4 separate regions of the Homo sapiens genome follow, and all the other regions are linked to region 3. The links come from fine-mapping of genetic effects on plasma protein levels. A gene starts in region 3. Each other region holds a variant in brackets. All regions are shown on one strand. Distances are from middle to middle.

Region 1 (8,138 bases), 4.7 Mb after region 3:
CCACTCTGGTCCATGTGTCTGTCTCCGGGTTGTAGGCCTCCACAGTGCTCAGCCGTAGCTGGCCGTCATATCCTCCGATGGCATAGAGAAGCCCGTTCACCACAGCCACGCCAACGCGGCTGCGGGCTGTTGTCATGGGACGGCATCTCTCCCAGCAATTGGCAATGGGGTCGAACACTTCCACCACATTCAGGGAATCACCTGCATAAAAATTTGCTACTCAAATTAAAACAAATGAGACCACTTGTTTAGAGCACAGCTATTGGGCATTGATTATATGGAACATTCGACTCAATTCTATTAGCTCTTCCCACAGAATTACTCAAGGCACAAGGGCCCACTAAGAAATTTCAGCCATGATCACCTCAAACCTAATTCTTTAAGGAAAATCAGAATCAGACAGGAGGTATTTATTTTTTAGAGAGGGTAGTTTTCAGTTACAATCAGGTACTCCACCTGCTTAAAGCCAAAGGTATAGGTGAATCGATACAATATTTCCTCCAGGCAGGAGGCATGCCAGAGGGACGGGCATGCGCTCCAGTGCTTTCATTTGCTAGGGGGTGACCCAAGGCAAGGGGCTTTGTGTCCCCACCCTCTGCTTCACATGTGAAATGGAGATAATCTTTATGGATTAAATGATATAACAGGTAAAGCACCTAGCATGGTTCTAGAATAAACTTTGCGCTCAATAAATAGTCATAGTAGCAAGGAATGATCATTCCAGCCCTACCTTTTTCATCAGGTTTTTGTGATGATCAAACAAAATAACCCCCTCTTCCTGTGGTATGCTGCTATGGGGCACTTAGCATTTCATTTGCACGCCGCTCCAGCGTGCACTGAGTTGAGGATTTACCTGTTCCAGGCCCTCTGATTAACAAGCAGCAGCTAGTACCCAACTCTCATTAACCTTCAATTAAAAACAAAACTGGGCCAGGTGCGGTGGCTCACACCTGTAATCCCAGCACTTTGGGAGGCCAAGGTGGGCAGATCACTTGAGGTCAGGAACTCAAAACCAGCCTGGCCAACATGGTGAAACCCCATCTCTACTAAAAATAGAAAAATTAGCTGGGCGTGGTAGCATGAGCTTGTAGTCTCAGCTACTCAGGAGGCTAAGGCGGGAGAATTGCTTGAACCCGGGAGGCAGAGGTTGCAGTGAGCTGAGATTGCGCCACTGCACTCCAGCCTGAGTGACAAGAGTGACACTCCATCTCAAAAAAATTAAAAACAATAAAAAATAAAAACAAAACTGCCTGGGAGTGCCCACCAACTGCCCCCAAGTTGGGAGGCCATGCAGCTTTCTGAAAACCTTACTCTTAGATTCAAAAACTGCCAATAACCCACGGACTGTAAAGCATGTGTGTGTTTCACAGGGGGTGGGGCTGAAGAGTAAAAAGTATTATTGACAGTGGTAGACCCTGTGTATTTGGATAATCTTTCTCTTGGGGACTTTCTCAGTCTAACCCCAGAGATCCATATGACAAAATGTGAATAGCCTGGTATGGAACTGGGTCTCTGACTGTATCCTATCCGGGGCTGAAGGATGCTATACCATAGCCAATGTGATATTAGGGCAAAAGTGCTGGCTCAGGAATCAGAACACCCAAGTTCTAGTCCTTGCTCTGCCAAAAACAATTGTATGAACATAGTGAAAGTTCTGTGGGGCTCAATTTCCTCACTTGTCAGGTAAGAAGGCTAGGCCTCAAAGATTTCTAGAAGGTCTCTTTAGCACTGATATTCTGATTCAATGGCATGAATATGTGACATGCTCTAACTGTAGAGCAATTGTATAAAATCAAGAGGGGCAAGGGTGGTGACAGTACAAAACAGAGAAACCAGAAGGGCCAGGCTAATTTGTCTGGTGCTTCCTCATCCATGGAGTCCAAGAGGAGGGTCTATAAAGGGGAGCCGCAAGGTACCTGCTGAGTTGAGGCCCCCTACAGCGTAGATAAGTCCAGCGATGGATGTGCAGCAGCGTGGCCGGGTTCTGAAAGCTGGCAGGTGGGGCCGGCGCTCTGGCATGAGGTGGTAGTCCTTTGCTTCGTCTACCAGGTCCCTAGAATAAGGTGGAAGATGCTAGAACAGGAGGTATCCCCCTGACTTAGTCCTCGTTTGCATCTCTGAGCCTGGCTCTCCACTGCCAACTGCAGGGGAAACCTGGGAGGAGAAGCCTTCTGGAAGGTCTGGTCTCAAAGAAACCAGGTGAGTTCTGGGAAAATCATACATGGCTACTGAGATATACTCAAAATTAAAGGGGCAAGACAAGCAAAGACCACCTCAGCTAGTGTAGATTAGGCATGAGAAAAACAAGGTAGTGGCCAAAATGGCTGGACCTGGGAGTTTCGACAAGCAGCATGCACCCTGTTGCCACTCAGACCTAGCCCTTCCTTTCCATCCCTACGACTGCACCGTGGCTTGCAACCTGCAATTAATCACCACTCATCTCCACGGTGGCAGCTCCTGACACATTTCCCTGCCTCAGGCCTGCCCCTCCATTCCACTTCCACACTAGAGTTCAAGCTAAGAACCTTCAATAGCCACCCACTGCCGACAGAATAAAGTCCAAACTCCTCAACAGCACCCTTGAGACCGCTGGTCACTGGGCCCTAGCTACCTCCAGACACTACTCCACCCCATCCTGACACACACCTTCACACCATCTGCCATGGACAGGCACTTACTTCCTCCTGAACCAGCTGATCCCAACCAGGAGTTGGAAAATGAAAGAAAGCTGAATGTGTGTAAAGTTTTTATCAGCAAAGGAGAAAAAAATATTTCAGGGTTGTGAATTTGATAAGCAATCTGGAGGAGAATGAACATTTTTCTCTGCTGTTCTACTTTTACAGCAATCATCCTATAGGGCTGCCATCTTCTGAACTGTTTGGGTAACTCTGCTGTACCATGTTGTCATTGATTTGCTCTGGGTAAAAGTTTCATGTGTTGGTAAACATGTCTGCCCCTTGCCCATCATCGTAGATGTAAAGCCTACACCTGGCAGAGGCCCTCCATGCCCACAGCACTGACTAATATTTACTGAAGAGGGCAATGAGCCCCAGGAAGTCCCATTTGCGCCACTGAGTGAGCTGCTGGTGTGGACAGGGTCAGAGCAGGCAGTAAAGATGGTTGCACATTCATAAATAGCTCAGTGGGGAAAGATGCTGGAAAATCCTCAGATAACTCAGCAGGGGAAAGCCCTTTCTGCTTTGATGCTCCCACATGGCACATCTCTCTGCCCAAGGCATAAGATTCGGGCTCTTCACACTTCCTGTTCCAGCTTCTAGACAGAGGGCAGACCAATCTGTGTGCCATGAATTAGACTGATCACTCTAAATGCTTTCTTTCCAGAACTGGAACAGGTGGCCAACTCCTCTTCCCTGCTTAGACCTTTGGCAGTGTCCTGTGCAGGTCCACCCTCACTCACCTGCATTTGTGGCAGCAACGCACCAGGTCATCCTGCTGTACTCTGTCTGAAAGGAACTGGGGCCGACAGAGGGGCAGGCGGATATTGGACAGCAGCTCAGGCAGGTAGGGACCCCTCTG[C/T]TCCCGGTCGTATCTGACCCAGGCCAATGCAGCTTCAAAGACCTGTCATGAGAGTGGATGTTCTGGCAGCAAATCCTCCCACCCAGAGGCCACACCCCAGGCCTCCAATCTCAATGCCTCCACTTCCTATACTGAAGCAGTCCCTTGGGCCCATCAATCTTTTCTCCTACTTGTCTCTGAAATCCCTGATTTCTCTCTACTTCCTAGGCTACTAGAACAGCTTCCTGAATTTCATTATGATTATGATTTCCTAGTGAAAAATCATCAATGGCATCTTATTACTTTCTGTGAAAACAAAATGCCTGTTTCCCTTCCCGCTGCTCCTGTACCCCTGCTCCCTCTAAACTCCCTCCATCACCCTCTCTGTACTCCGGCAAGGCTGGGCTGGTTCTCCTGTTTACACTGTCCCCCCTCATCTAAAATGCCCTCATCTCCTCCTCTTCATCTAAACCCACTCCCCTATTTTTAAGGCCTGGCTCTAGATCCATGTTCTCCAAGGAGCCTTTCTTAATGGCTCCAACCACAAGGACCTCTCCCTCTAAAGCCCTACAGCCCTTATGAAATGTATCACTCAAAGAAATGTGAGCTGCCCCCCCGCCCCCCGTCATATTAATTAGTTTAAGAGCTAGGGACAGGACACCTAGTTTTTGGAATGAGGCTTTTTCCTCGAAACCACAGTGTCTATGCTGCCAAGCCCAGGATCCACTTTTCTCCCAGGCTCCTATCAAGCCCGCTTCACCTCTCTAGCATCCCCCTTTTCTAGAGGAAAGAGGAAAATAAATCATACCTTTTAATCCCTCCTCAAATTTCTTTTTTCTTTTCTTTCTTTCTTTCTTTTTTTTTGGAGATAGGGTCTTGCCCCATCGCCCAGGCTGGAGTGCAGTGGCGCAATCTCAGCTCACCTCAACCTCTGCCTCCCAGCTCAAGCAATCCTCCCACCTCAGCCCAAGTAGCTGGGATTACAGGCCAGGAGTTTAAGCTGGACCAGGCCTGGCTAACTTCTGTGCTTTTAGTAGAGATGGGGTTTTGCCATGTTGCCCAGGCTGGTCTCAAACTCCTGAGCTCAACAAATCTGCCCACCTTGGCCTCCCAAAGTGCTGGGATTACAGGCGTGAGCCACTGCTCCCGGCCTTCCTTAAGTTTCTAACCTTCGTCCCTCATCCTCACTCTCAGGTGAGAAAATAGAAAATCAGAAGAGAATTTCAGTAAGAATCTACCTGTCCCCCGTCCCTGGGCGTGTGCCCCAGCTCTCCCTCCTGCTACTGTGGATATGGATGGCTTGTGCTCCTATCAAAGATGCACACCCTTATGCCCTAGACTGTCCTCACTTATTCCAGAACATCATTCCAACAACTGCTCTCCCATTTCTCCAATATTATCAATTCTTCCCTCTCTTCTGGAAAACTCCCAACAGCAGTCAAATATGCTGTAATTTCTCTCACTTTAAAAAAAAAAAAAAAAGGTCGGGCCTGGCGCAGTGGCTCACGCCTGTAATCCCAGCACTTTGGGAGGCCGAGGTGGGCAGATCATCTGAGGTCAGGAGTTCGAGAACAGCCTGGCCAACATAGTGAAACCCCGTCTCTACTAAAAATACAAAAGTTAGCCAGGCATGATGGCGCACACCTGTAATCCCAGCTACTTGGGAAGCTGAGGCAGGAGAAATGCTTGAACCTGGGAGGCTGAGGCTGCAGTGAGCTGAGATTGTGCCATCGCACTCCAGCCTGGGTGACAGAGTGAGACTCTGTCTCACAAAAAAAAAAAAAAAAAAAAAAAGGCCTGGCATGATGGCTCATGCTTATAATCCCAGCACTTTGGGAGGCCAAGGTGAGAGGATCATGTGAGGCCAGAGTTCAAGACCAGCCTGGCCAACGTGGTGAAACCCCATCTCTACTAAAAATATAAAAATTAGCCAGGCATGGTAGCGGGCACCTGTAATCCCAGCTACTTGGGAGGCTGAAGCAGGAGAATTGCTTGAACCCGGGAGGCAGAGGTGCAGTGAGCTGAGATTGTTGCCACTGCACTCCAGCCTGCCTGGGCGTTGGAGCAAGATTCTTTCTCAAAAACAAACAAACAACAACCCCTCTTGATTTCACAGACCCCTCCCACAGCTGCCCCAATGTTCTGTTCTTCCTTAGAACAAGATTCTTTCAAAAAGTTATCTATACTAGGCCGGGCACAGTGGCTCACGCCTGTAAACCCAGCACTTTGGGAGGCCAAGATGGGCGGGTCACTTGAGGTCAGGAATTCGAGACCAGCCTCGCCAACATGGTGAAACCCCGTCTCTACTGAAAGTATAAAAATTAGCCTGGCATGGTGGTGCATGCCTGTAATCCCAGCTACTCAAGGAGGTTGATGCGGGAGAATTGCTTGAACCTGGGAGATGGAGGTTGCAGTGAGCCAAGATCGCACCACTGCACTCCAGCTTGGGTGACAGAATGAGACTCTGACTCAAAAAAACAACAAAAAAATTATCTATGCTTGCTGTTTCTGGTTCACAGGAGGATTATTTCTAATAGTAAATATTGGAAATAACCCAAACATGCAAGAATAAGGTGAGTAGGTTGACAAAAATCAACAGAATGCTATTTAGACACTAAAATGTATGGAGGCCAGGTGCGGTGGCTCACGCCTATAATCCCAGCACTTTGGGAGGCTGAACTCACTTAAGGACAGTAGTTCAAGACTAGCCTGGGCAACATGGTGAAACCCGGTCTCTACAAAAAATACAAAAACTAGCTGGGTGTGGTGGTATGTGCCTGTAGTTCCAGCTACTCGGGAGGCTGATGTGGGAGGATGAGGCTGCAGTAAGCTATGATCTTGCTACTGCACTCCAGCCTAGGTGACAGAGCAAGATATTATCTCAAAAAAATAAATAAAACATAGAAAGTTTTCATGAAAAATGCATGATACAGTAAAACAAGCCCAATAATATACAACAGCCACATACATGTCATGATCTTAACTTTGTAAAAAAATACATAAACAAAACAATGACTATAAAGAGCAGCATCTCATGTCACCTGCACAGACTGCTACTGGGCTCACATACCTGCTCCTCAGATTTGACATTCAGCTCATCCCGAGACACCAGCTCAAGCACGTCTTCCAAGGGCAGGGCCAGGAACTCTTCTGACATGGACACCTCCACAAAGTGCTGGTGGATGAAGCTGTTGGCAGCGTCGTACAGCACAGCACACATCATTGTCTCAGCAAACTGGCGCACACCCAGGCAGTTTTTTGGGTGAAGCCTTTGGCATAAGGAAAGAAAAAAAAAATTAGAGGAAGAAAGGATGTTATCTTTGATCATTCTCAGGCTGGTTCTGGGTAGAGCCACAGAATGAAAACAAATTCTTAACCTCAGCTTTGTTGGAAACTGTATTTCTCTGGGACTCAACTTCTAAAGGTATAAAATTAAGAAGAAAGATTATCCTCAAAGGTCCCTGCCTTTTGGGCCTGGTGCTCTGTGCGTCAGGTGGAATGAGCTCTCTGGGTAGTTCTGTAAAGTAACTGTCAGAAGGTGAGAAGTAACCATCACAGGAGTGCAGGCACTGAAAATCTGTTTGAGACGTTCCACCACTGAAATTCCTGGTTGAGTGTCCAGGGCATTATCTCAACTTTGGTCACAAGGAAGGCACTGAAGTCACAGAATTAGAGTTTAAAAAACACAGACAGGGCTGGACACGGTGGCTCACGCCTGTAATCCCAGCACTTTGGGAGGCTGAGGCAGGCAGATCACGAGGTCACGAGATCAAGACCATCCTGGCTGACACGGTGAAACCCCGTCTCTACTAAAAATACAAAAAATTAGCCGGGTGTGGTGGCGGGCGCCTGTAGTCCCAGCTACTTGGGAGGCTGAGGCAGGAGAATGCTGTGAACCCAGGAGGCGGAGCTTGCAGTGAGCCGAGACTGCGCCACTGCACTCCAGCCTGGGCGACAGAGCAAGACTCCGTCTCAAAACAAAAAACAAAAAACAAACAAAACAACAACAAAAAAAACACAACACGGACAGATGGCTTCTTTAGTATGGGAACTCTTATACTTGTCTTTTTTTTTCCTTTTTTTTCTTTTTTGAGACAGGGTCTCACTTTGTCCCCCAGGCTGGAGTGCAGTAGCGTGAACACGGCTCACATCACCCTTGACTTCCTGGGCTCAAGCGATCCTCCTGCCTCAGCCCTGCAAGTAGCTGGGACTACAGGTGCCACCATGCCTGGCTAATTTTTGTACTTTTTGTGGTAGAGACAGGGATTCACCATGTTGTCCAGGCAGGTTTGAACTCCTGAACTCCAGCAACCCACCTGCCTCGGCCTCCCAAAATGCTGAGATTTTTTCTTGTTTTAGATAGAAAGAGACTCCACGGGCCTAATTGTTCAGACAAGCAGAAACAACAGCAGCAGCTATCATTTATTTACCATCAGTGAGTCAAGTGTTTTGCTAGGCCTTTTATACACATTCTCCAGAATCTTCTTAACCTGTAAAGTAGTAACGCACTCACAGATGGAAAACAGGCTCAGGGAAACCAAAAATGGTGCTCACAGTCCCTTGAGATAAGCAAGTGGTGGTGCTGAGATTGAAATCAGGACTCTTGTGCACATTCCCACGGT
Region 2 (8,138 bases), 1.3 Mb after region 3:
ATGAGAATAAATTTTATATAACTGATTTTTACCTCAAAAAAATTAAAATAGCACAGACTTTAGGACCTAAGACCAAATATAATCAATTATCACAACAAAGCAGCAGACAAAAACAGGTGTCTCTCCAGTCACAGGAAACCATCACAGAAGAAATTTAAAAGCATTAGAATAATTTGAGAATTATAATCATAATGATGAGCTGAGTCACACTGAATAAACAAAAACCCATGAGTCCATAACAATAATAAAAGAAGAAATGGCAAAACAAGACACAAAAGCAATCTTCTAGAGGCTAAGGTTGTGCCCGGCTCATTTTTGGGGTTGGTTTGTTGGTTGGTTGGTTTGTTTTTGAGACGGAGTTTTGCTCTTATTGCCCAGGCTGGAGTGCAGTGGCACGATCTCGGCTCACTGCAACCTCCGCCTCCTGGGCTTAGGTGATTCTCCTGCCTCAGCCTCCCAAGTAGCTGGGATTACAGGCACCCGCCACCACACCCAGCTAATTTTTTGTATTTTTAGTAAAGACGGGGTTTCACCATTTTGGCCAGGCTGGCCTCGAACTCCTGACTTCAGGTGATCCACCCACCTCGGCCTCCCAAAATGCTGGGATTACAGGCATGAGTCACCATGCCCAGACTTGCATTTTCCTTTAAACTCTTCATTTCAATTAAGTAAACGACAGAAATAAATTCTGAAACTAGCATTCAGTGCTATGGGCAGGCACAGTGGCTCACGCCTATAATTCCAGCACTTTGGGAGGCTGAGGCGGGTGGATCACTTGAGGTCAGGAATTTGAGACCAGCCTGGCCAACATGGTGACACCCTGTCTCTACTAAAAATACAAAAATTAGCCAGGCATGGTGGTGCACATCTGTAATCCCAGCTACTCGGGAGGCTGAAGGGGGAGGATTGCTTTAACCCAGGAGGTGGAGGTTACAGTGAGCCTACATAGCGCCACTGCATGCCAGCCTGAGCAACAGAGTTAGTGAGACTCTCTCTTAAAAAAAAAAAAAAAAATTCAGTGCTATGTGTCAGAAAATCAGGAGCTTTAAAGGTAGGCTTTAAAAAGTATACACACAATGTAGAGAAAAAAGACAAGTTGAAATGTTTAAAGTAGAGATTCTTAACCTGAGTCCAAAGACAAGCAACAAGAAGTCCATAAACATTCTGACACGACTAGTAAAATTTTACTTGTGCATATGCGGGTTTCCCATAGCACTTAACAGATCTTCAAAATGGAATTGACACCTACCCCACCCCACCCCCAAAAAAGTATCACTAAATTAAAGGGAAGATGGTAGCTGCAAATAACATGGTCCTCCCAAAACACCTTGCACAAATCTTTCATGCCTTACTGTCCCCTGTGACCTGAATTTGCTCTCATGCTTCTTCTTCACTCACAAAATCCTATTCACTCATCAACACTCAGTTCTACTTTCACTCTTAGGGATATTGCCTTGCACGCCCCCAGGCTCTGAACTCCTACAGCACATCCTACTTCTATCCATTGTACATGTTTGACATTTACAATACCTTTGTGAACTCGATGTGCATCAGGTAGTCTTATCTCCTTACTGTTCTGTGTCCAGCATCCTTAACTCTCACCTTTTACAAAAACTCCCCCACTCTAGTGATTTCAGTGGGGCTGTCAATCGGACCCCTTCAATAACTGGGCATATGAAGTAGATTGGGCCATACCATTCATTCCCTGAAGTTTTTCTGACTGGAAACAGCTCTTTCCTATTCCATCATGCTGTGTAAACATGTACCCAGAACTGTAGGAGCTATGGTCCCCAATTATAAAAGGAGTAAATTTTTAAAAGTTAATGACTGCAAGAAAGAATGCAACACATAGACACAGAGATATCAAATGGAGACACAGAGGTCTTGATGCCTTAAGGACCTGATTCTGTTCAAACCGTGTTCAAGTAAGACAAACCCCAGGCTATAACCAATCTGGCTATTTCTGTACCTCACTTCATTTTCTGTACATCACTTTCCTTTTTCTGTCCATAAATCCTCCTCTACCACATGGCTGTGCTGGAGTCACTGAGCCTACTCTGGCTCAGAAGGCTGCCCAATTTGTGAATCATTCTTTGCTCAATTACAGTCTTTTAAATTGAATTCAGCTGAAGTTTTTCTTTTAACAGATGGTGTCAGAAGTGGGATCCGAAGTAGAGCTTCTAGCGACCCCCAGGAGCACTGAGTGACCAAGCGAGATACCCACCAGGCCCATTGTGTCCATTCCTCTCTCAGAACAGCTGAGGATTGTGGAAAGTTCTCTCTCGCATTCCAAAGTTCCACAGATTTGTGCTTAGCGCTCTTTGAGTCTCTTTGAGCAAATTTCTGATCCAAACTGGGTTTGGAGGTCATGACAGAAACTGGACTAGGTCTAGGATCAGATTACATCTGATATTAATTGGGCTGGATCCAGTTAGAGGCCTCTTACATCTGACTGGGTCAGAAAGAAACCAGTAGTAAATGGCAATATTGGAGGGGGTATAAAATTTGGCTTTTGGAAATTCACAGGGATTTGTGCATTCTACCCTCTTTGTTTCATTTTTCTTGTGCACTTAGATAGAAAAAAAATCACTAGCTAAGTTGATCAGGGGAACCTGAGAGCAAAGCCAGTATTTGAGGTAAAAACAGGCTCCTTAATTTGTGAAGAACTGAGTTCCTTCTGGCTTATACATGCATAAGTATTAAGCCCTGGAGGCAGCAAAGTCTTACAGAAATGGTGAAATCTTACTAAAGATAAGTTACAGTGCTTATCCGAATGAACAACACTGAACAGAAGTGCATGTGATTGGGGGCTCCCAAATTAGTCTTATCTAGGGATGCCTACTGATATGTAGAAGCTTCTAAAAAGATTGCATTATTTTTATCTAAAGACGTTATCAAAGGCAAATAAAAACCTTAAGTGACTAATTGATTTAAAACAAAATTAAATCTGCTAACCTTTCGGCTTAGTTACTAGCCTGCCCCAAAGGGAAAAAGAAAGCTATCCTATATAAGGTATTTATGAAGGTAGGCCCTCAAGTAAAATAGGCTTGCTTCTTTTTCAGATCTATTTATACTGAGTTCTTTTTGTTTGTTTTTTTGTTTTTCATTTGTTTTTTTGTTTGTTTGTTTTGAGACAGAGTCTGGCTCTGCCGCCCAGGCTGGAGTGCAGTGGAGTGATCTCAGCCTCACTGTAACCTCCACCTCCCCGGTTCAAGTGATTCTCATACCTCAGCCTCCCAAGTAGCTGGGATTACAGGCATGCACCACCACGCCCAGCAAATTTTTGTATTTTTTTAGTAGAGACAGAGTTTCACCATGCAGGCAAGGCTAGTCTCAAACTCCTGGCCTTAAGTGATCTGCCCGCTTTGGCCTCCCAAAGTGCTGGGATTACAGGC[G/A]TGAGCCACTGCACCCAGCCTGTTGGCCCCATTCTTTAATGCGCTCCACCCATTACTCTGAACTCAGTAATTTTAGCTAAGAAACAGTAGCTATGTTAAAAAGAATACCCTATTGAACTAAAATACACTTTTCTGGAATTTAATTGGCTATCCTGAAACTCTTTTGTAAAAGAAATCTAAATCTATAAAGGAAATCTCCATTTTTAAGGATATCTGCCTCTAAGTATTAGAAACTCTTACCATTCTTTTTATTTTTATTTTTTTTTTAGTTTTTTTGGAGACAAAGTCTCGCTCTATCCCCCAGGCTGGTGTGCAGTGGCGCAATCTCAGCTCACTGCAACCTCCACCTCCTGGGTTCAAGCGATTCTCATGCCTCAGCCTCCCCAGTAGCTGGGATTACAGGCGCCCGCCACCACGCCTGGCTAATTTTTTGTATTTTTAGTAGAGACAGGGTTTTGCCATGTTGGCCAGGCTGGTCTGAAACTCCTGACCTCAGGTGATCCTCCTGCCTCAGACTCCCAAAGTGCTGGGATTACAGGCGTGAGCCACCACACTTGGCCAACAATTTTGTATGTAGCAAACCTTAAAGTATTTGTTTAAGGCCTATTAGAGCTAATAAATGAATTCAGCAGTTGCAGGACATAAAATCAACATGCAAAAACCAGTTGTATTTCTGTATACGAACAACATGAGAATGATATGAAAAGGAAGGCCAGGTGCGGTGGCTCACACCTGTAATCCCAGCACTTTGGGAGGCCAAGGTGGGAGGATCACCTGAGGTCAGGAGTTTGAAAATAGCCTGGCCAACATGGTGAAACCCCATCTCTACCAAAAATACAAAAAACTAGCCAGGTGTGGTGGCAGGTGCCTGCAGTCCCAGCTACCTGGGAGGCTGAGGCATGAGAATGGCTTGAACACAGGAGGTAGAGGTTGCAGTGAGCCGAGATCATGCCACTGCACACTAGCCTGGGCGACAGAGTGAGACTCTGTCTTAAAAAAAAAAAAAAAAAAAAAAAGGAAAGGAAATTAATGAACAATATGAAAAGGAAGAAAACAATTCCACTTATACTAGCATCAAGAAATACAATGCTTAGGTATAAATTTAACCAAAAAATGAAAAATTTGTATATTGAAAATTACAAAACACTGCCAAAAGAAATTAAAGACCTAAATAAAGATAGCCTATGTTAACTGATTGGAAGACTTAACATTGTTAAGATGACAATCCTGCCCAAAGCAATCTACAGATTCAATTCAGTCCCTACCAAAATCCCAACTGTATTCTTTGCAGAAATATTTAAAAATTCATCCTGAAATTCATATGGAATCTCAAGGGCCCTCTAATAGCAAAAATAATCTGGAAAATTAGAACAAAGTTGGAGGACTCACACTTCTGACTTTTAAACTTAGTACAAACCTACAGTATCAAAACAGTGTGATACTGGCATAAAGACAGAACTATATAGACCAATGAAACAGAATACAGAGCCCAGAATAAACCCTCACATATATTGTCAAATGATACTCGACCATGGTGCCAAGACCATTTAATGAGAAAAGGACAGTCTCTTCAACAAATGGTGCTGGGAAAACTGGATATCCACAAAGAATAAAATTGGACCCTTGTAATAACACATACGAAAATTGACTCAAAATGGATCAAAGCCTTAAACATAAAATCTAAAGTTAAAAAACTCTTAGAAGAAAACATACAGGGAAAGGTTCATGACACTGGATTTGTCCATAATTTCTTAGATATGTCACCAAAGACACAGGCAACAAAAAAAACAAAAAAAGATAAATCAGCTTCATCAAACTTAAAACTTTCATGCATCGAAGGACACCATCAACACAGTGAAAAGGCAAACAGCTACAGAATAAGAGAAAATATTTGCAAACCATATATCTGATAAGAAATTAATATCCAGAATATATAAAGCAGGGGTCCCTAACCCCTGGGCCACAAATTAATATCAATCTGTGGCCTGTTAAGAACCAAGCCGCAAAAGCACAAGGTGAGCAGTGGGTGAACAAGCATTATCTCCTGAGCTCTGCCTCCAGTCAGATCAGCAGTGGCATTAGATTCTCATAGGAGTATGAACCCTATTGTGAACTGTGCATGTGAAGGATCTAGGTTGCACGCTCCTTATGAGAATCTAATACCTGATGATCTTGAGGTGGAAGAGTTTCATCCCAAAACCATCCCTTCTGCGGTCCATGGAAAAATTGTCTTCCACGAAACCAGTCCCTGGTGCCAAAAATGTTGAAGACTGCTGATATAAAGAACTCCTACACTTCAACAACAAAAACAAAAACAAAAACAAAATTGAGGCCAGGCACAGTGGCTCATGCCTGTAATCTCAATGTTTTGGAACCCCGAGGCAGGAGGATCTCTAGAAGATAGAAGTTCAAAACCAGTCTGGGCAACATAGCAAGACTATTACCTCTAAAAAATAAAAAATAAATTAGCTAGGCACAGTGGCACACAGCTGTAGTCCCAGCTACCCAGGAGGCTGAGGTGGGAGAATCCCCTGAGCTCAGGAGTTTGAAACTGCAGTGAGCTATGATCGTGCCACTGCACTCCAGCCTGGCGACAGAGCAAGACTCTGTCTCAAAAAAAAAAAAAAAAAACTTTTTAGATTGACTTTTAAAATGGGCAAAGGATTCGAACAGACATTTTTCCAAAAAAGACATACAAATGGCCAATAAGCACATGAGAAGATTCTCAACATCACTAATCATTAGGGAAATACAAATCAAAACCACAATGAGACACCACTTCACATCTATTTGAAAGGCTATGATCAAAAATCAGAAAACAACAAGTATTGGGGAGGATGCAGAGGAACTAGAATCCTTGTGCACTGCTGGTGGGAATGTATAGCACAGCCACTACAGAAAACAGTACACTAGCTCCTAAAAACACTAAAGACAGAATTATCATATTGTTCAGCAATTCCACTTCTTGGTATATACCCAAAGAAATAGAAAACAGGGAGCTTAACAAGTACTAGCATGCCAGTGTTCACTGCAGCATTATTTACAATAGCTAAAAGGTAGAAACAACCCAAGTGTCCATCAGCAGAAGAAGGAATAAACAAAATGTGGTATACCCATACACTGAAACATCATTCAGACATAAGAAGGAACGAAGTTCTAACATAGACTACACCATGGATAAACCCTGAAGACCTCATGCTAAGTGAAATATGCCAGACACAAAAGGACAAACATTGTATGATTACTTTTTTTTTTTTTTTTTTGAGACAGAGTCTCGCTCTGTCACCCAGGCTGGAGTGCAGTGATGCGATCTCGGCTCACTGCAAGCTCCGCCTCCTGGTTTCATTCCATTCTCCTGCCTCAGCCTCCCAAGTAGCTGGGACTACAGGTGCCCGCCACCACACCTGGCTAATTTTTTTTGTATTTTTAGTAGAGACGAGGTTTCACCGTGTTAGCCAGGATGGTCTCGATCTCCTGACCTCGTGATCCACCTGCCTCAGCCTCCCAAAGTGCTGGGATTACAGGCATGAGCCACCGCGCCCGGCCATATGATTACATTTATATGAGTTATCTAGAATAGTCAAAATCACGGAGATAGGAAGTAGAGGCCAGGCACAGTGGCTCATACATGTAATCCCAGCACTTTGGGAAGCCGAGGTGGGTGGATCACGAAGTCAGGAGTTTGAGACCAGCTTGGCGAACATAGTGAAACCCCATCTCTACTAAGAATACAAAAATTAGCCAGGCATGGTGGTGCCTGCCTGTAGTCCCAGCTACTCGGGAGGCTGAGGCAGGAGAATCACTTGAACCCAGGAGGCAGAGGTTGCAGTGAGCCGAGATCACACCACTGCACTCCAGCCTGGGCAACACAGCGAGATTCTGTCTCAAAATAATGAATGAATGAATGAATGAATGAATGAACGAACGAACGAATGAATGAATGTAGAACAGTAGTTGCCAGGGGTTGGGGGTGAGGGGGAATAAAGAGTTTTCATTTAACTGGTGTAGAATTTCAGTATGGGATGACGAAAAAATTCCAGAGATAGACAGTGGATGACAGTTACACAACAATGTGAACATACTTAATGCCATGGAACTATATACTTCAAAATGGGCAGGGCACAATGGCTCATGCCTGTAACTCCAGCTTTCTGGGAGGCCAAGGTAGAAGGGTCTCTTGAGGCCAAGGGTTTGAGACCAGCCTAGGCAACATGGCAAGACCCCATCCATACAAAAAATTTAAAAAATCAGCCAGGCATGGTGGCACATGCCTATAGTACTAGCTACTGGTGAGGCTGAGGCAGAGGATCACTTGAGCCCAAGAGTTTGAGACTACAGTGAACTATAACTGCATCACTGCACTCCAGCCTGGGAGAGAGAGCAAGACCTTGTCTCCAAAAAAAAAAAAAAAGGTAAAAATAGCAAATTTTATGTTACGTACGTTTTGCCACAATAAAAATAAATTATAAACAACCATAGGGGAAAAGCTTCATGATCCTGACTTTGGCAACAGTTTCGTAGCATGACACCACAAGTACAAACAAAAGAAAAAAAACAGATAAATTGGACTTCATCAAAATTTAAAATTTTTGTACATCTAGAGACACCACCAAGTGAGTGAAAAGACAACCACAGAATGGGAGAAATATTTCCAAGTCACCTATCTGATAAAGCAGGGCTCCCCAACCCTGCTTTATCCCCGTTAGGAACCAGGCCACACAGCAGGAGGTGAGCAGTGGGTAA
Region 3 (7,502 bases):
CTGGTAACCCGCACCCCTGGGGAGGTGTAGGGGGAAGGCAGTGTCTTCAGCCTGAGGGGCTGGAGACACAATCAGCCTGGGGTGGGCCCAGGTCTCCCCCTCATTCCAGGCTCCTCTGGCAGGGTCCTGTCCCCACTCAGGGCCCGTAGCATACAGCTGGTTTCTGCCCATTCAGGGCTTGCCCTCAGAGAAGCTCAGATAGGAAAGAGCTGGGAGGTAGAGGCCCTGGGTTCAAGGCCTTCTCAGGCCTCAACTTTGCTGTGCAACCCTGCATAGGACCGTGCCCTTTCTGGCCTAGCCTCCCGCCTGTAGAGTGAGCCCTCCCTCCAAGCTCATACTTACACCAGGGACTCCGCTCACTATAAAAGACAGTGAAGGCATCAGTGGGATTGGCTATGCCTGAGGAGGGAAAGGGGGTTCAGAGGGTGGAGCAGCTCAGTCCCCACTAGCAGCCTCCTACTCCCTGCCTGGCTGCTCATTGGCTTGCCAACCTGCTCACCCTCATCCAGGGCAAAGCCTGCCCTCAGGGCGTGGAACTCAGGCCGCTGCACGAACAGCTCCATGCCTTGGTGACCCCCAACCTCCTCATCTGTAAAAGCAGCAGGGACGTGAGATGAGGAGGCTGCCCCGCCCCACCCTCCCCTTTCCCAAAGGTATCTGAGCCACTCCTACCAGGCACAAAGGTCATGTGGATGGTTCTGGGGAACCGGTGGCCCTCCACCTTCAGCCTCCTCACAGCTTCCAGGTACCTGAGGGGGCATAAGCCAGGTGCTGGGGGAGCCACCAGATGCGCAGGCTGGCCCCACAGGCAGGGCCAGCAGGCTGGAGTCCTGTGTCCTGGACTTTACCCTGCCACACCCTGATAGGGACTCCAGAAAGTCCCTGCCCCTCTCTGGTCTGAATCTCCCTATCCATGCAATGGTCATGGCAGTAGTTCCTGTCCAAGAGGTCACGGTGTTCCTTGGCCTTGAGTTTCTCCAATCACCCCCTCAGGTCCTGCTTCAATCCACTGGACCAGTGGGGACATTGTGGAGGAGTAGGAATGGAGGACACTCACTGGATGCTGACGCACTTCATGTCCTGGGCACCCCTGGCATAGATGTAGCCCTCAGAATCCTTGAAGGCCTCAAAGGGGTCGTGACTCCAATGTTCCTGGGGGCAGGGATGGGAAGAGGGGCCCAAACCCCAAATTTAGCCATTAATCCACTCTGGTCAACAGTGGCCCTGCCCTAGGAGCCCACCATAGGGTTGGAGTGACAGGTGGAGTGGTGGGAGAGGAAAGACGGGGGCTGAAGAAGGCAGCTGATTGCCATCCCCCATTGCTGTCTCCTGCTTCCCACCCCCCAGTCCCCACCCCACTCTGGCCCAGAACTTGCTGCTGGATGAAGGCTGCTTGAGTGGTGTAATGTCATAAGGATGTTGAGAGTTAGTGTCAGGACTGGGGCCAGGACCATGAGCAACTTGAGGTTGAATCCTGGGGTCTGCATCATGTCTGTCCCCAAGGCCTGCACTGCCCACCTCCCCAGCCCCTTACACACCTTGAAGACAGGCACCACATCCGTGTGGGAGTTGAGCAAGATGGAGGAGAGTGTAGGGTTGGTGCCTGGCCAGGTCAACACGGTCACCACATAGCCAGGTGCCACCTGGAGATGGTCAGGAGGGTAGGTGGTCTGAGCAGGGTGAGGAAGTGCCCAGGCCCACCTCCCTTCCCCGCTTAGGGCCCCAGGCTCACCTCTACTTTCTGACAGCCCAGGCCCAGCTGGCGGGCTGTCTCCTCAAAGAAAGCCACAGCAGCTCCTGGAGGCACAGAGTGTCTTGGGGCTGCTTCTGCCTACCCACAGCTTCCCACCAGCCCAGGCAGCCCGGAGAGTGGAGCATACCCAGAAATGGGCTGCTGCCTCCCCGACACACTCCATATCCCTCAGAGATGCTTGCATTTCCATCCCCAAGAAAGAAGATATTTTTGGCTACTCAGTGACCCTTTCTGGAAGTCCAGGGGGATGTCTGGACACAGGGTTGGAGGAAGGTGTTATCTTCCTTAAATATGGGAAACTATGGCACAGAGACATGAAGAGATTCACCCACCATCTCTCAGCTGATTAATCACAGAGGAGGAATTTGGACCCATGTACACAATTCCCAGCCACTAAGTTTTTTTTTTTTCTTTTCCTTTTTTTTTTTTTTTTTTTGAGACAGGGTCTCACTCTGTCACCAAGGCAGGAGTGAAGTGGTGCGATCTCGGCTCACTGCAGCCTCAACCTCCCAGGCTCAAGCGATCCTCCCACCTCAACCTCTGGAGTAGCTGGGACTACAGGTGTGCCACCATTCCTGACTAATTTTTGTATTTTTTCTGTAGAGACAGAGTCTTGCCATGTTGCTCAAGCTAGTCTTGAACTCCTGGGCCCAAGCAATCTGCCAGCCTCAACCTCCTGAAGTGCTGGGATAACAGGCAGGAGCCACCTCCCAGGCCCTAGCCACCAAGCTTGACTCCCTAAGGGCTGTGGCCTTTGTCCAGCCCCAGTGGGCTTCTGGAGGGCCTCTCCTTTCCCTGTGGCTGCCTCAGGCTTCCCCCACCACTCCTGCCCTGGAGAGTGAGGTGAAGTTTTTCTTTAACCAGCTGCCAGGAGTAACCTTGGTCAGCAGCAGAGTCTCTGGGGAAAGGGTTCCTCCCTAACCTGGAGGGGCTGCCTCAGTCTATTTACTTGGGGAATGGCTGGAGGGGTTGGGGAGCCATTTGGGACAGCAGAGTGGGGCTCAGCTGGGTGACAGGGGTTGGAGGCTGGTTTAGAGCACAGTCCCCGTCCCTTAGGCCCCGTCACAGGCTCTGGAACCACCGTCTTCTCACCATAGTCAGGCTTGGGCTGGACAGTGCGGATACGCAGGTACTGGCGGAAGAGCGTCACCGATGGGTGCTCCTCCTCGGGACCCTTGCTGGTCATGGCGCTGCGCGTGGTGAGCTGGGGGCAAAGTGAATGGCTAACTACCCCTCCAAGACCCTGGAAATGGTGAGCTCCTGCACACAGCCTGTCCCCACGGCGGCTCCCGGACTTCCCACAGGGGTAGGATACCGTGTTTCGGAGCCCCCATTAAGGAGCACCCATTCTGTTTCAGGCGCTGGGCTGTCTGCTTCCAGCACATTTCCTTATTTAATCCCCAAAAGAGCCCCATGAAGTTTGTGCTCAGAATGCCCACTTTACAGAGGAGAAAGCTGAGAGGCTCAGAGAGGTTCAAGGACAGCTCATAGAGTAGCTGAGCAAGGTTTGAACCCAGACTTGTACTCCCCCCGCCCTCCTAAAAAAAAAAAAAGGCAAAAACAAAAACAAAAAACAAACAAGAAAAACCCCAACGCCTCCCAGTTGCCCGGCTTTCAAGCCACGGAGCCCCAGTCCCTCTATCCCTCCCCAGGGCCCCCACCTCACTCTCCTGTCGCTGGGCTCACGCTCGCCTCTCAGCGCCCTTCCCTGACTGTGGCCTGGACTTAGGGTCCAGCGAGGTCGCCTGCGAGGTCGCAGGCTCAGGACCGCCCCGGTCCGCCCACCACGTGGCCGAGGCCGGATGTCGGGGCGGAGACCGAAGACCGTCAGTGAGGGCCGTCCCGGCGCCAGCGGCCGCGTCGGCGCGGATGTCCCCGCCCGCCTCTGGTTCGGGCCTCAGCGAGATTACTGGAGGATTAGATCCGGATCCCGTCCCCGGGCAGCGGCCGCCGCGGCCAGCGCCGCCCCGCGAGTTGCGAGCTCCGGGCTGGCCCTGCTCTGACAGGCTCGCCCCGCCCCACACGACACGCCTGCCACTCCTGCCCCCAGGTATGCGCCGGGAGCTCAGGACGGTCCCGTCCCCTAAGGGCGCCTCCTCCTTCAGCCCCCGGATAGGGCGGGAGGAAAGGGGGCCGCCCCGAGGCTCTCAAGATGCAGAGCTGCAAAGCCCTGGGCCTGCGCCCTCGCCCTCCTCGGCAAGTCTCCAACGGCTCCCCACTGCAGGCCTCAGCCCCTCGGGGAGGTCCTCCCTGACGCCTCAGCTCCACTTGTACTGAAGTTATTGGCCAATGTCTGTCTGCCCACACTGAACTCCAGGAGGCTGTGAGCTCCACTTCCTGCAAGGTTCTGCCCGGGGCCGTGCCGAGCCCGGACAGTGCCTAGAATGGGAATGAATGCATGGACAAGAGCACGTGTGACGGTTTAAGCGTGCCACTGCGTGTGCAGTCTATCAGTGGATATGATTGTGTATGTGACAGTGTGAGATGGTGGGTGGGTGTGATGAAGTCACTGTGAATGGATGTAATTGTGACCCTGGATGGACAGTGTGAGGAAACTGGCTCTTCTGCAGCCACCAGAGGGGGAGGCTAAACAGGCACAGGTGTACCACTGGCCCCCTGCAGGCCACAGCTGCAGTTGCCCACTTGTGCCCCAGCTGCCCTTTGTACTCCCAGCCAGGTCTGCCCTCTGCTCCAGGGGCTGAGTCAGCTTGGGGAAGGGTGAGGGACAAAGACTTCAATCTCTAGGCCAAGGAGGCACGCTGTGGGAAGGGTTCTGTCCCACCTTTCCTGAGGTTTAAGTCTTGGCTGCTCACACATAACATGGGGGCAAATGGACTTTAACTCATAACAATGCTGGATAATTCTTTATTTAGTTATTTTTTTGATACAGAGTCTCACTCTGTCATGCGGGCAAATAGATTTTAACTCACAACAATGCTGGCTAATTATTTACCTATTTATTCATGCGGGCAAATAGACTTTAACTCATAACAATGCTGGCTAATTATTTAGCTATTTATTTTTTTGAGATGGAGTCTCACTCTGCTGCCCAGGCTGGAGTGCAGTGGCTCCTTCTCGGCTCGCTGAAAACTCCGCCTCCTGGGTTCAAGTGATTCTCCTGCCTCAGCCTCCAGAGTAGCTGGGATTACAGGTGCGTGCCACCACGCTGGGCTAATTTTTGTATTTTTAGTAGAGACAGGGTTTGTCATGTTGGCCAGGGTGGTCTTGAACTCCTGACCTCAGGTGATCCACCCGCCTTGGCCTCCCAAGGTGCTGGGATTACAGATGTGAGCCACAGTGCCCAGCTAATGCTGGTTTTTTTTTTTTTTTTTTTTTTTTTTTTTTTTTTTTTTTTTGAGACGGAGTCTCACTCGCTTTGTCACCCAGGGTGGAGTGCAGTGGTGTGATCTCGGTCTTGGCTCACTGCAAGCTCCGCCTCCCGGGTTCACACCATTCTCCTGCCTCAGCCTACTGAGTAGCTGGGACTAAAGTCACCCGCCACCACGCTCGGCTAATTTTTTGTATTTTTAGTAGAGACGGGTTTTCACCGTGTTAGTCAGGATGGTCTCGATCTCCTGACCTCGTGATCCGCCTGCCTCGGCCTCCCAAAGTGCTGGGATTACAGGTGTGAGCCACTGCGCCCGGCCAATGCTGGCTAATTGTTAAATCGCGTTCCCCATACCCTCTAGGTTCCTGACTTCCTTGGCTTGGCTGTCCAGACCCTGGATTTCCCACCAATCCCTGTGGTCATGCAGCAGCAGTAATACACCCCGCCTCCCACCAGCAATTCCCCAGCCTTATGTGGCCAAGTACTCAGTTATCCAGACTCATTCAGTCCTATAACCACCCTCCAACCTAGGTGTTGCCATCATACCCGTTTTACAGATAAGGAAACTCAGGCACAGAGTGGTGAGGCCAGGCACTTAGGAAGTGGCGCATTCTTAGCCTTCTCAGACTGCTGGACATCCCCTCCAGCTCCCAGGCCCAAAGTAGTCCCAGACTTGCCTCCCACTCCCGTCTTTCCCACAGCACACCAGGAAACGGAACCTGTCACTTCCCAGGCAGGACAAATATGCTTTTTTATTGTGTCTGTGAGATGAAATGAGGAGTCCTGGCTGGGTCTGACCCTGGCCTCTGGCCTCCAATCCCAGAGGCTGTCTCCCTGGTTCAGGGAGGGTGGCGGTCCAGACTGTCCAAGCTCATGCCAGGCTGGGAGCTGGGAGTGGGTTAGTTCAAGGTAGATGGTCAAGGAAGGCAAGCAGGACAAGGTGGAAGTCTTGCGGCTTGTGGAGGTAACAGGCATGGCCTGCATTGCGTAGCTTCACCACAGAGTGGTTGGGCAGGTGGCGGAGCTGCCGCAGTGACTCTCGAGCCAGGATGTGGTCCAGCTCTCCATACAGGATAAGGGTTGGAGTCTGCAGGGCAAGGCAGGGGGCTGTGATCTTGGGGCCTGATGAGTTTCTGACCCCCAAGCCACTTCCTAGGAAGCCTTCCCCAACACCATCCAACTCTTCCATCCAAGGTCAGGGATAAGGCCATGTCCCTCCAAGTAAGACTTGAGTCCTGAACCCCCCCAAGCCACAGACAGGGTGCCAGGACCTTTGAGATCCTTCTCCCAGTACCTTCACAGCCCAGAATTGCTCCTGGGTGTAGTTCTGGGTGGAGGTGGGTGCGATGGGCACAAATCCATGTAGCTGGTGGTGGCCTCGCATCAGGAAGGGCAGGGCATAGTGGCCACTCAGCGAGGGGCTCACCAACACGGCATTCTGTACCTCCAGGTCCCGCAGCGCCCGCTCCAGCAGCGCTGCCCGCCCTGCCTCTGTGCTTGCCTCCTTTGAAGGTGCCGAGTTCCCAAAACCTAGGAACAGCAGCAGGTACCAGCTGAGGGGCACTGGGAAGGGGCACAGGACTTCCTGCCCACCACAGTGGGGGAAAAAGTTGGGGACCACTGGCACTGGCACACACTACCTAAAACTGCCCAGAAGCTATTTTCTGGTAATGTAATATGCCTGTTAGAAAAGCATATCTTGGCCGAGAGTGGTGGCTCACGCCTGTAATCCCAGCACTTTGGGAGGCCGAGGCGGGCAGATCACGAGGTTAGGAGATCGAGACCATCCTGGCTAACACGGTGAAACTCCGTCTCTACTAAAAATACAAAAAATTAGCCAGGCGAGGTGGCGGGCACCTGTAGTCCCAGCTACGCAGGAGGCTGAGGCAGGAGAATGGCATGAACCCCGGGGGGCGGAGCCTGCAGTGAGCCGAGATCATGCCACTGCACTCTAGCCTGGGCGACTGCGAGACTCTGTCTAAAAAAAAAATAAAATAAAATAAAAAATAAATAATACCCAGTGTTGGGGGAGACATGGGGAAATGGGCACTTTCATACATGACAGATGGGAAGATAAATCCATATAGTGTTTTTGGAGGGTGAGATAGTAGTTATCTAAATTTAAAAATGCATGTCCTGGCAGCTGGGCGCGGTGGCTCATGCCTGTAATCCCAGCACTTTGGGAGGCCGAGGTGGCGGATCATGAGGTCAGGAGTTTGAGACCAGCCTGACCAACATGGTGAAACCCTGTCTCTACTAAAAATACAAAAATTAGCCAGGCATGGTGGGGCGCACCTGTAATCCCAGCTACTCAGGAGACTGAGGCAGGAGAATCGCTTGAACCCAGAAGGCGGAGGTTGCAGTGAGCCGAGTACGAGCCACTGCACTCCAGCCAGGGTGACAGAGCGAGGCTCTGTCTCA
Region 4 (8,138 bases), 150 kb before region 3:
GTTGGCCAGGCTGGTCTCGAACTCCTGACCTCAAGTGATCTGCCTTCCTTGGTCTCCCAAAGTGCTGGGATTACAGGCGTGAGCCACCACGCCTGGCTGGGGATTCAATTTCAGTATCAATTTTGTTGGGGACAAAAACATTCACACCATAGCAGGGGTGGATGTTGGTTACAAGTTTATTGTGGCCCTGAAGAATTCTGGTGCTTCTCTCCTGCAGTCCTGGCTTGGGGACTCTGGGTGATAAAGGGCCCTCTGCCTCTCAAATCTGCCCATCCTGAGAGGAGAGTGGACAGATGTGGGAGGTGCTGCCTGCAGGTTATGGTGCATTGCCCTCCTTCCACAGCCTTTGCCCTGGGAACACCAGAGCCTGTATGGGTCACCTTTGCAAACATCTTTGATTGAGGCCAAGTGCTGGGATATGTTCAGCTGGGGAGGTTACACAGCCTTGTCTGGTGGGGGATGATACTTAGCTTTCTCAGGAAAACCCCAGTATTTTTAGGAACAAACAGTTTGTACCCACCCATTTCTGGTTTTGAAAAACCATGGGTCCTCTCCCATCTTGTTCATCTGAAACAGCCTGAGCTTCAGGAGGGGAGGAGGAATGGGCTTGGGCACTGGGTCAGATGATTCCAGTGTTGCCTCTTTTTATGTGACATTGGGCAAGACCTTGACTTTGCTGAGTCTCTTTTCTTATCTGTGAGACTGACATCCCATTGTCTGCCTCATGGTAGGAGAGGATGTGTCTAAATTTCCCAGCACCGGACACAGTAGGTCCTCATAGATATTAATCCCTTTCCACTTGAGCTCATGGAAAATGATGTCATGCCGTTTTAGGTGAGAGCTCTTTAAAAGGGCATTAGAAGTTTCTGTTGTGGACATGGTCCTGGTGATGCTGAGTGGGTGGGCAGTCCATTTGTTAGAAAAACGGGTCCATGGGGGTGTCTGGTGCCTTAGCCACCCCATTTCTGGCATGGGGCTGTGGCCTCTGCCCCAGGGTTGGAGGCGCGCGTTTCCTCTCCTGTGCACCTTCGGAATCTCTCAGGGGTTCATCTGCCTTTTACTTTTGCTTAGGGTTGTTGTCTCCCCCAGAACATTTTGCTTTGGCTTCTCTTGTCACACAGCTCATGGAATCTGTCCCCTGGTTGGGGGCTGGGGAGACTCCCCGACCCAGACTCGTGTCCCCACCAGCTGCCCTCGTGGGTTTGCTTTGCCGGGTGCCTTGGTGTACATGTCCATGTGCACTGCCCTTTGTCAGGCCTGTCCTTCCAGTCATCTCAAGGGCCTGACTCCTGGAGGATGGCTGGTGGATCAGGAGACCCGCGTGGTGGCACTGGTGCCAGTGCCCTATTTGAGGCTCTGGAAAGTCTTGGTCAGGGGGTGTGACACAACTGTGACGTTAAGCAGGAGGAAAGGGAGTCCCTGCCTCTCACTGGATGTCATACAGACTTGGGTTGTCAGAGCTGCAATGGAGGCTCATGATCCCATCTCACCCCCTCATTTTATAGAAGGGAACACTGGTCAGGAGAGGGAAGGGCTTCCCTACCAACTACCACGGTTGTTCAGAGCCTCAGGCCCCGTGTGAGGCCCTCACAGCCCCATGTGTGGCAAGCGTGGGGGGCAGTGTGCTAGAAATACAGATTTATCTTTCTGTATTTTCTGAAACATAATCTTGAGCCACACTTACTTGGTTTAAGTTCTCTAGAGCTATTTGGGAGAGGATGGTGGGCGGGTTGTGGGTGGGGAGTTAAATCTGGTATTTGTGGCTGTGCAGTTGGTGTGCATGTCGCTGTAGAGTGACTGAGCTGCACACGGTGCCATGCGCCCCCGCCACCCTCCCCCCGACCCCGTGTGGGTGAGCAGCCCCTGCCCTGGACCCAGACCTGCACAGGCGCTGCTGTCTGTGCTCAGGGCTATGCTTTGAGACTTAGTTGGTGGGAACTTGCAGGCTCAGAGTAGGAGACCCACTGATGCTTATGGGGTGCTTGCGCCATGCTGGGCCCTAGGTTGAGGTTGGGATAGCAGCAGCAAAGGGGATGCACCTTCAAGCAGGGGAGGCGACTGTGTGACAGTGGCTGGGCCAGTGGGCCATCCCTCTGTCCACCCCAGGTGGAGGGCAGCTCTGGGAGTGGGCCACCCCTCCCTTGTTTCTGTGAGAGCTCTGTAGCTCCTGTCTAGGCATTTTGGAGGACTGTTTTGATGCTCAGGAGGGTCACACCTGGCTTGGGTGGTCGGGCACCTCCTGTGAGAGGTGAGAGGACATGCAGAGAGAGAACGGCTCATTTATTTCACACTAAGAAACTAAGAAGTTGGCCTGGCCCTCTGTCCCCTGCCAGCAGCCCAGAGTTGAGGGCTGGGAGCAGGTGTCTTCGGCCAGGGTCAGGAGGTCACTCCCCGTCTGTGGAGTTATGATGGCCTCCTATGGGCCCCACTCAGCCATGAGAGCCCAGTTCACAGCAGACCCTGGTAAGTGAGTGCAGGAGCCTCCTGGTGGGGCTCTGGAAGAAGCATCCCAGTGGGTTGGATTGTTGTCTCTCTGTCTGAGCACAGGGGCTGGAGACCACAGCACTCACCCCAGAGGCCTGTTGGGCCTCCTCAGTCCCATTCTCTGTGTGATGGCCACTCTGCTTTTCCCTCTGACTGAGGGGCATGTGGTGTGACAATCCTATTTGTTCACTGGAAGACTGTGCATATGAGAGTCAACACAAAATATTTTGCAACGCGTGAGAGGTGGTGGTGGGTTTGCCAGCATAGCTGTTGTGGGCATGCAGTCAGAGTTCAGGCATACAGGGGCCTCTGAGAGTCAGGCGGGAGAAGGTGAGGAGGATGAGGAGAGCAGCGAGGTCAGTGTGAGCTGCCGGAGCAGCAGAGCGAGAGCCAGCACGACTGTGAAATCTAATCACCATGGGCTCCCTTGTTTTGCCTTAAAAAAAAATCTTTCTCTGTTGATACTTTGTTGTTTGAAGAAACCAGGCAATGTGGGTCCTTTTTAGGTCTGGAAATTGGCAACAGAAGATGATGTGTGGTAAAATGACTGGGTGTGGATCCAGCCAAGCTCCAGGGCCAGATATGGCCCGGTTAGCAGGTAGAGTAGCAGGGAGGCCAGGCTGTGTCTGGGTTCATGACTGGTTAAGCAGGACCATCTCCCTGAAGATTCTGCCTGGTCTTTCAAGGGAGGGAGGGAGGCCCTTATTGAGCCTGTGAGGCATCCCTGCTAATGGACCTGGCCTGGAGTCAGAGGGAGACCAGGGCTTCCCACAGGTGGGTACCTCTGGT[A/G]GCTGGGGGCAGGCCGGCATCCACACTGCTGAAGGCCCAGCCAGGAGCCGCTGCTCAGAGGAATCCTCAGGGGTGTGCAGAGACACCCAGAGACAGGTCTTGCCTTTGGAGAGGATGGACTTGGCAATATCCCTGCCCCAAGTGGATACCCTGATGCATGAAGAGTGATTGATTAAATAAAAGGAATAAGCCATCATGAGGGTAGAACAGTCTCCAAAAACATGTATCATATCTGGCTGCTGGCAATGGTAAGAAGAGACTCTTCAAGCACCTATGGTTTGGAAACTTTATTTTATTTTATTTATTTTTGAGACAGAGTCTCGCTCTGTCGCCCAGGGTGGAGTGCAATGACATGATCTCGGCTCACTGCAACCTCCACCTCCTGGGTTTAAGCGATTCTCCTGCCTCAGCCTCTCGAGTAGCTGGGATTACAGGTGTGTGCCACCGCCCCTGGCTAATTTTGTAGTTTTAGTAGAGATGGGGTTTCGCCATGTTGACCAGATTGGTCTCGAACTCCTGACCTCAAATGATCCTCCCGCCTCAGCCTTCCAAAGTACTGGGATTACAGGTGTGAGCCACCATGCCCAGCCTGGAAATTCTAGAATGCACTCTCAAACAACCAATGGGCTGAAGGGGAAATCACAGTGGAAACTAAACATTTGGAAGTGAATGACTGAAAATGTTGCATACTGGAAACTTCCAGGATCTATTGAAGGTGTCATCAGAGGCAAATTTGTAGCCTTAAATTGATTTATATAAAACCAAAAAAATTGAAAATACCTGAATTAAGAACTCAATGCAGGTGACAGCAGAAAGAATATAGAGAAAGAGAGGACCTTTTCTGTCTAGATCATGGTGTTTGAGGAGCACTAGGGCAGGGAGGAGAGAGCCTGGAAAGTTAGCAGGGGCCGAAGTAATCTGGGGCCTCCAAGGCTAGGCCCTGAAGCATGTCAGCAGTGGACAGTCTCTTCTACAGTACATGTTGGCTTTGGCCCACAGCAGAGCCCAGGTGTTCTCTGTGCTGTCCTCTGAGTGCCCTGGGCTGCTAGGCAGAAGAACAGGAGCCTTCGTGGAAGGTACCTGGAGCAGGGGCTGCGTGGTCCTCTTGGTAAACAGGCACTGTTAGGGAGGACTGCAGATCCACACAGCTTATCACTCGCTTCATCCCTGGAACTTCCTGGGGTTTGGTCTCGTAAAGGAGCGCTAGCACTTCTTATCTGCAGGGCTCCCAGTGCCTGCGCTCTGGTCCTGACCCCTGCTGAGCTGAGTGTTTTGTTGGTTCTGCTGCTGTTGCTGCTGCTCTGACTCCACCACCTTTTCCCAACTTGGCCTCTGGTGGTTGAGTCATGACATGAAAGGAGAGTGACCTGCAAGTATTTTTCCCTTAGTTGCTGTGACTTCTTGGAAACCTGCCATCACTCAGTGAGCTCTGGGCAGGCAAAAGGCCCATCTTTTTTGACATTCCATGTACTGGTTTCCTTCTCTTTTCTCTGTTTCCTCTTTGTTTTTCCTCACAATGAAAGTAGTTTTGTTGTTTGGTGTTCGTATTAGTGTAGCAATGCCATATATTCATTATTAAAAAATTCAAAGTAGGCCAGGTGCGGTGGCTCATGCCTGTAATCTTAGCATTTTAGGAGGCTGAGGAGGGTGGATCACTTGAGGCCAGGAGTTCAAGACCAGCCTGGCCAACATGGCGAAACCCCGTCTCTACTAAAAATATAAAAATTAGCCGGGTGTGGTGGAGGGTGCCTGCAACCTCAGCTACTTGGGAGGCTGAGGCACAGGAATCGCTTGAACCCAGGAGGCAGAGGTTGCAGTGAGCCAAGACTGTACCATTGCTCTCCAGCCTGGGCGATAGAGCCAGACTTTGTCTCAAAAAAAAAAAAAAGGTTTGTGACTGGGTGCAGTGGCCCACATCTATAATCCCAGCACTTTGGGAGGCCGAGACGGGCAGATCATGGGGTCAGGAGATCGAGACCATCCTGGCTAACACAGTGAAACCCCATCTCTACTAAAAATACAAAAAAAATTTAGCTGGGCGTGGTGGCGGGCACCTGTAATCCCAGCTACTCGGGAGGCTGAGGCAGGAGAATGGCGTGAACCCAGGAGGCGGAGCTTGCTGTGAGCCAAGATCGCACCACTGCACTCCAGCCCGGGCAACAGAGCGAGACTCTGCCTCAAAAAAAAAAAAAAGGTTCAAAGTAACGGAAAAATGAAAAATTTCTAAGAATCAAGTAAAAGTTACCTGAAATTACCTCACACCCCTCTGTTAACCCCTTGGTGACTGTCCACCTGAAAGGGTATCTGAGTGATGGATGCCCTGCCCTCATCCTGCAGTCAGGCCCTGCATGAGCAGGGGCCACACAGCCCGTGATGTCTTACACTTGGGATTTCACCCTCACTGATGTTATTGGGCATTGTTTCTCTGTTAGTAAAAGTGGATCTATATTATCCTGGTTAATGGTGGCTTAGGATTCCCAGGGCTGCTGGGAGTGGGGCATTCCTGGGCCCTTGCAGCTCTACCTGTGTGAAGAAGGCAGGAGGGCAAGTGTAGGCCAGAGGCTTTGTCTTTGTGTCCTCTCAGGCTTTGTTCCCTGCACTTGGACATGGCACCCTTAGGAAGGGTAGTGTGATTAGAATGTGTTCCCCAAAGTTCATGTATTAGAAACTTGATCCCCAGTGTGGGTTGTTGGGAGGTGGGGCATAATGGGAGATGTTTGGGTCCTGAGGCCATGCCCATATATATGAATTAATGCCATTCTTGCAGGAGTGGGTTTGTTACCATGGGGTGGGTTTCTTATAAAAGGATGACTTTGGCCCGCTTTTCTTTGTCACCCTCTCTTTGCCCTTCTGCCGTGGGATGACTCAGCAAGAAGGCCCTTGCCAGATGCTGGCCCCCGATCTTGGACTTCCCAGCCTCTGGAACTGTGAGCCAATACATTTCTGCTCATTATGAATTACTTAGTCTCAGATATTCCATTATAGCAACAGAAGTGGACTAAGGCAAAGGGTCACCGCACAGACTGTCCTTTCAGGATTCAGTGGGTAAATGCAGGTGCTGTGCTCTGAGCGCCTGAGTGCTCGGTGTTCACCAGTGTTGTACTTGCTTTTTTCGTCAGAGGTGTTATGAGCACCTCTGAGAGGAAGAGCCGAAGGTGGACTCTGGAAGCATGGGTGGGCATACTCCCTGCTGTCCAGTGTGTCTGAGGCTGAATGGCACCTCTCAACCTGCCTGTCTCTCTGGGAGACAAAAGCTGCCTTCCTCCATGGCCTCGAGGTCCCTTTTCCCTCCCAGAACTTGGCTGGTCTTTTCTGGCATTAAGTGGAAGGCGCCTCCCAATGTTCCTCTCATTGATGAGTCAGCTGTAGATGTGCTGCCAGAGCCCATCTCATGGGCAGTTGGGGCTCTTGCCGCTCCCTGCACTGGTCTGGGGGGACTGAGGTGGACTTGGTGACAGTGGCTGTGCTGTCTTCTAGGAGAGAACCTCTTTTATCTGATTTTGCTTGGGAATACCAGGTACTGGCCACAGTAAAAGTTCGACTGGGAGGAAGAGATGGTGGTGGCTGTGGTCATGGTGTCGTAGCTAAACAGATCCTTACTCTGAGCACCTTTCTGGGATGGATTTTAGGTATGTGGGGAAGAACCCTCCTTTGCTAGGAGATCATGCATCCCCCATCTCCCCCGCCCTGGACTGCTCTCCAGCCCTTGGAGTGCGGCCTGGCGTGTGCCTGGCATTCCCCTTCAGATGGTCACGCAGACCTTCAACATCTGGGAAGCCAGAGTGGGCACATCACTACCCATGGCCTGAACATAAGAAAAGTGAATGCACATTAGAGAGACGTGTCACATTGCTCTGCTGCCCAAGCACCTTTGGAAACCTCCTTCCTGTCACCTGTGCCTTGAACTATGCCCTGTCTGCTTGAGCCATTGGCTCTTCCTTGGAGATCCCTATTTCTCTGGTCAGCAACTGTGCAGTGTTGGGGAGATGTTGGGTGTTAGGGTTGGTCTGGGTCAAAGGGACCAAGTTCTGGTCTCAGTGCTGTGGCTGGGGTGACTCAGTGCATCTCTCTGACCTGTGGTTTCTTACTGGGAAAGTGGGGACAATGAGGCCAGCCCTGGAGGGCTGCCAGTGCAGACTGTCCCATTCACTCATCTCTGTCACCCACATTCTCATAGCCTGGACTTGTCCCTGTTGTAGTGCTCAGGAACAGAAGCCTGAGCGGTGGTGCTTGCACCTGGCTGCAGGCAGGCTCCTGGGCTACAGGTTACGGAGGACTGTGGGCTGAGTGGGCTCTCGGTCCTTTATCCTGCTGCTGCTTTCATTCAAGAACGTCTCGTTTTCTTCCTGTGCATTTAGAATGGAGAATGACCTTTGATGTGTGTTATTTTTTGTTTGTTCTGCCAGGGACCAGCCACCACTGTTGCCTTTTCAAGAACGGGGGAGTATTTTGCTTCTGGAGGCTCTGATGAACAAGTAAGTAAAGAGTAGTCGAATGGAATGGTGAAGAAGGGAATCTGAGCTGATTTCTGCTCAGAACCAAACAGGGTGTTTGGGGGATGGGCTGGGTTTCGCCAGCTTCCTTGGTGGCTTTCAGCGACTAAAAAGGCCCTGATGGCGCTTGGGGTGGGGTTGCCCAGATCCAGGGGCCTTGCCACTCCAGAATGGGCCTCCTGCAGGTGCCGACCTCATGGCTGCATCTCAGAATCCTCACTGCTCAGGCTAGCGCTTAGTGGAAGGAGGCTGGGCTATGGTTGTCGTGAAAAGTTGGTTTTTTAGTTATTTTCCTGATTCCAAATAAATAGATAATGATTATTATTAATATGATCTTACTTTAGGCCTGGGAATATGGCCAATGTGACAAGA

Direction of the effects. Positions count from the first base shown, and alleles are read on the strand shown. Strength reflects both the effect of a copy and how common the allele is.
In carriers of allele T in region 1, the plasma level of the protein whose gene starts at base 3,469 in region 3 tends to be lower than with C alone (moderate association).
With allele A in place of G in region 2, the plasma level of the protein whose gene starts at base 3,469 in region 3 is lower (moderate association).
As copies of G replace A in region 4, the plasma level of the protein whose gene starts at base 3,469 in region 3 goes down (moderate association).

The links. PIP is the posterior inclusion probability: the model's chance that the variant is causal. Protein levels are from antibody-based Olink assays in UK Biobank. Linkage for the fine-mapping came from a reference panel and not from the study's own genotypes, which makes the PIPs less certain.
Region 1: its variant is fine-mapped to the plasma level of the ACY1 protein (UK Biobank, PIP above 0.99).
Region 2: its variant is fine-mapped to the plasma level of the ACY1 protein (UK Biobank, PIP above 0.99).
Region 4: its variant is fine-mapped to the plasma level of the ACY1 protein (UK Biobank, PIP above 0.99).

Annotation. Positions count from the first base shown.
Region 1 is chr3:47,328,598-47,336,735 of GRCh38, reverse strand. KLHL18 (kelch like family member 18) reads right to left here. Exons shown (of 10, transcript NM_025010.5): 4 at 6,587-6,785; 5 at 3,419-3,579; 6 at 1,917-2,053; 7 at 1-201. Among named protein-coding and RNA genes, the nearest start is that of PTPN23, 48 kb to the left of the region's middle. The variant C/T (reference allele first, on the strand shown) is at 3,538.
Region 2 is chr3:50,689,804-50,697,941 of GRCh38, reverse strand. The region is part of intron 1 of DOCK3 (dedicator of cytokinesis 3); the gene reads right to left. Among named protein-coding and RNA genes, the nearest start is that of MIR4787, 19 kb to the right of the region's middle. The variant G/A (reference allele first, on the strand shown) is at 3,396.
Region 3 is chr3:51,979,502-51,987,003 of GRCh38, reverse strand. ACY1 (aminoacylase 1) reads right to left here and starts at 3,469. Exons shown (of 15, transcript NM_000666.3): 1 at 3,415-3,469; 2 at 2,846-2,957; 3 at 1,733-1,797; 4 at 1,539-1,643; 5 at 1,058-1,152; 6 at 673-749; 7 at 500-589; 8 at 343-399; 9 at 1-16. The coding sequence starts at 2,939. It overlaps ABHD14A-ACY1 (ABHD14A-ACY1 readthrough), which reads right to left. Exons shown (of 17, transcript NM_001316331.2): 4 at 2,846-2,957; 5 at 1,733-1,797; 6 at 1,539-1,643; 7 at 1,058-1,152; 8 at 673-749; 9 at 500-589; 10 at 343-399; 11 at 1-16. It overlaps ABHD14A (abhydrolase domain containing 14A), which reads right to left. Exons shown (of 5, transcript NM_015407.5): 4 at 6,376-6,611; 5 at 5,808-6,168. The coding sequence ends at 5,986. RefSeq lists a silencer at 3,435-3,884 and an enhancer at 5,338-5,839.
Region 4 is chr3:52,124,723-52,132,860 of GRCh38, reverse strand. POC1A (POC1 centriolar protein A) reads left to right here. Exons shown (of 11, transcript NM_015426.5): 8 at 7,680-7,748. Among named protein-coding and RNA genes, the nearest start is that of POC1A, 26 kb to the left of the region's middle. The variant A/G (reference allele first, on the strand shown) is at 3,274.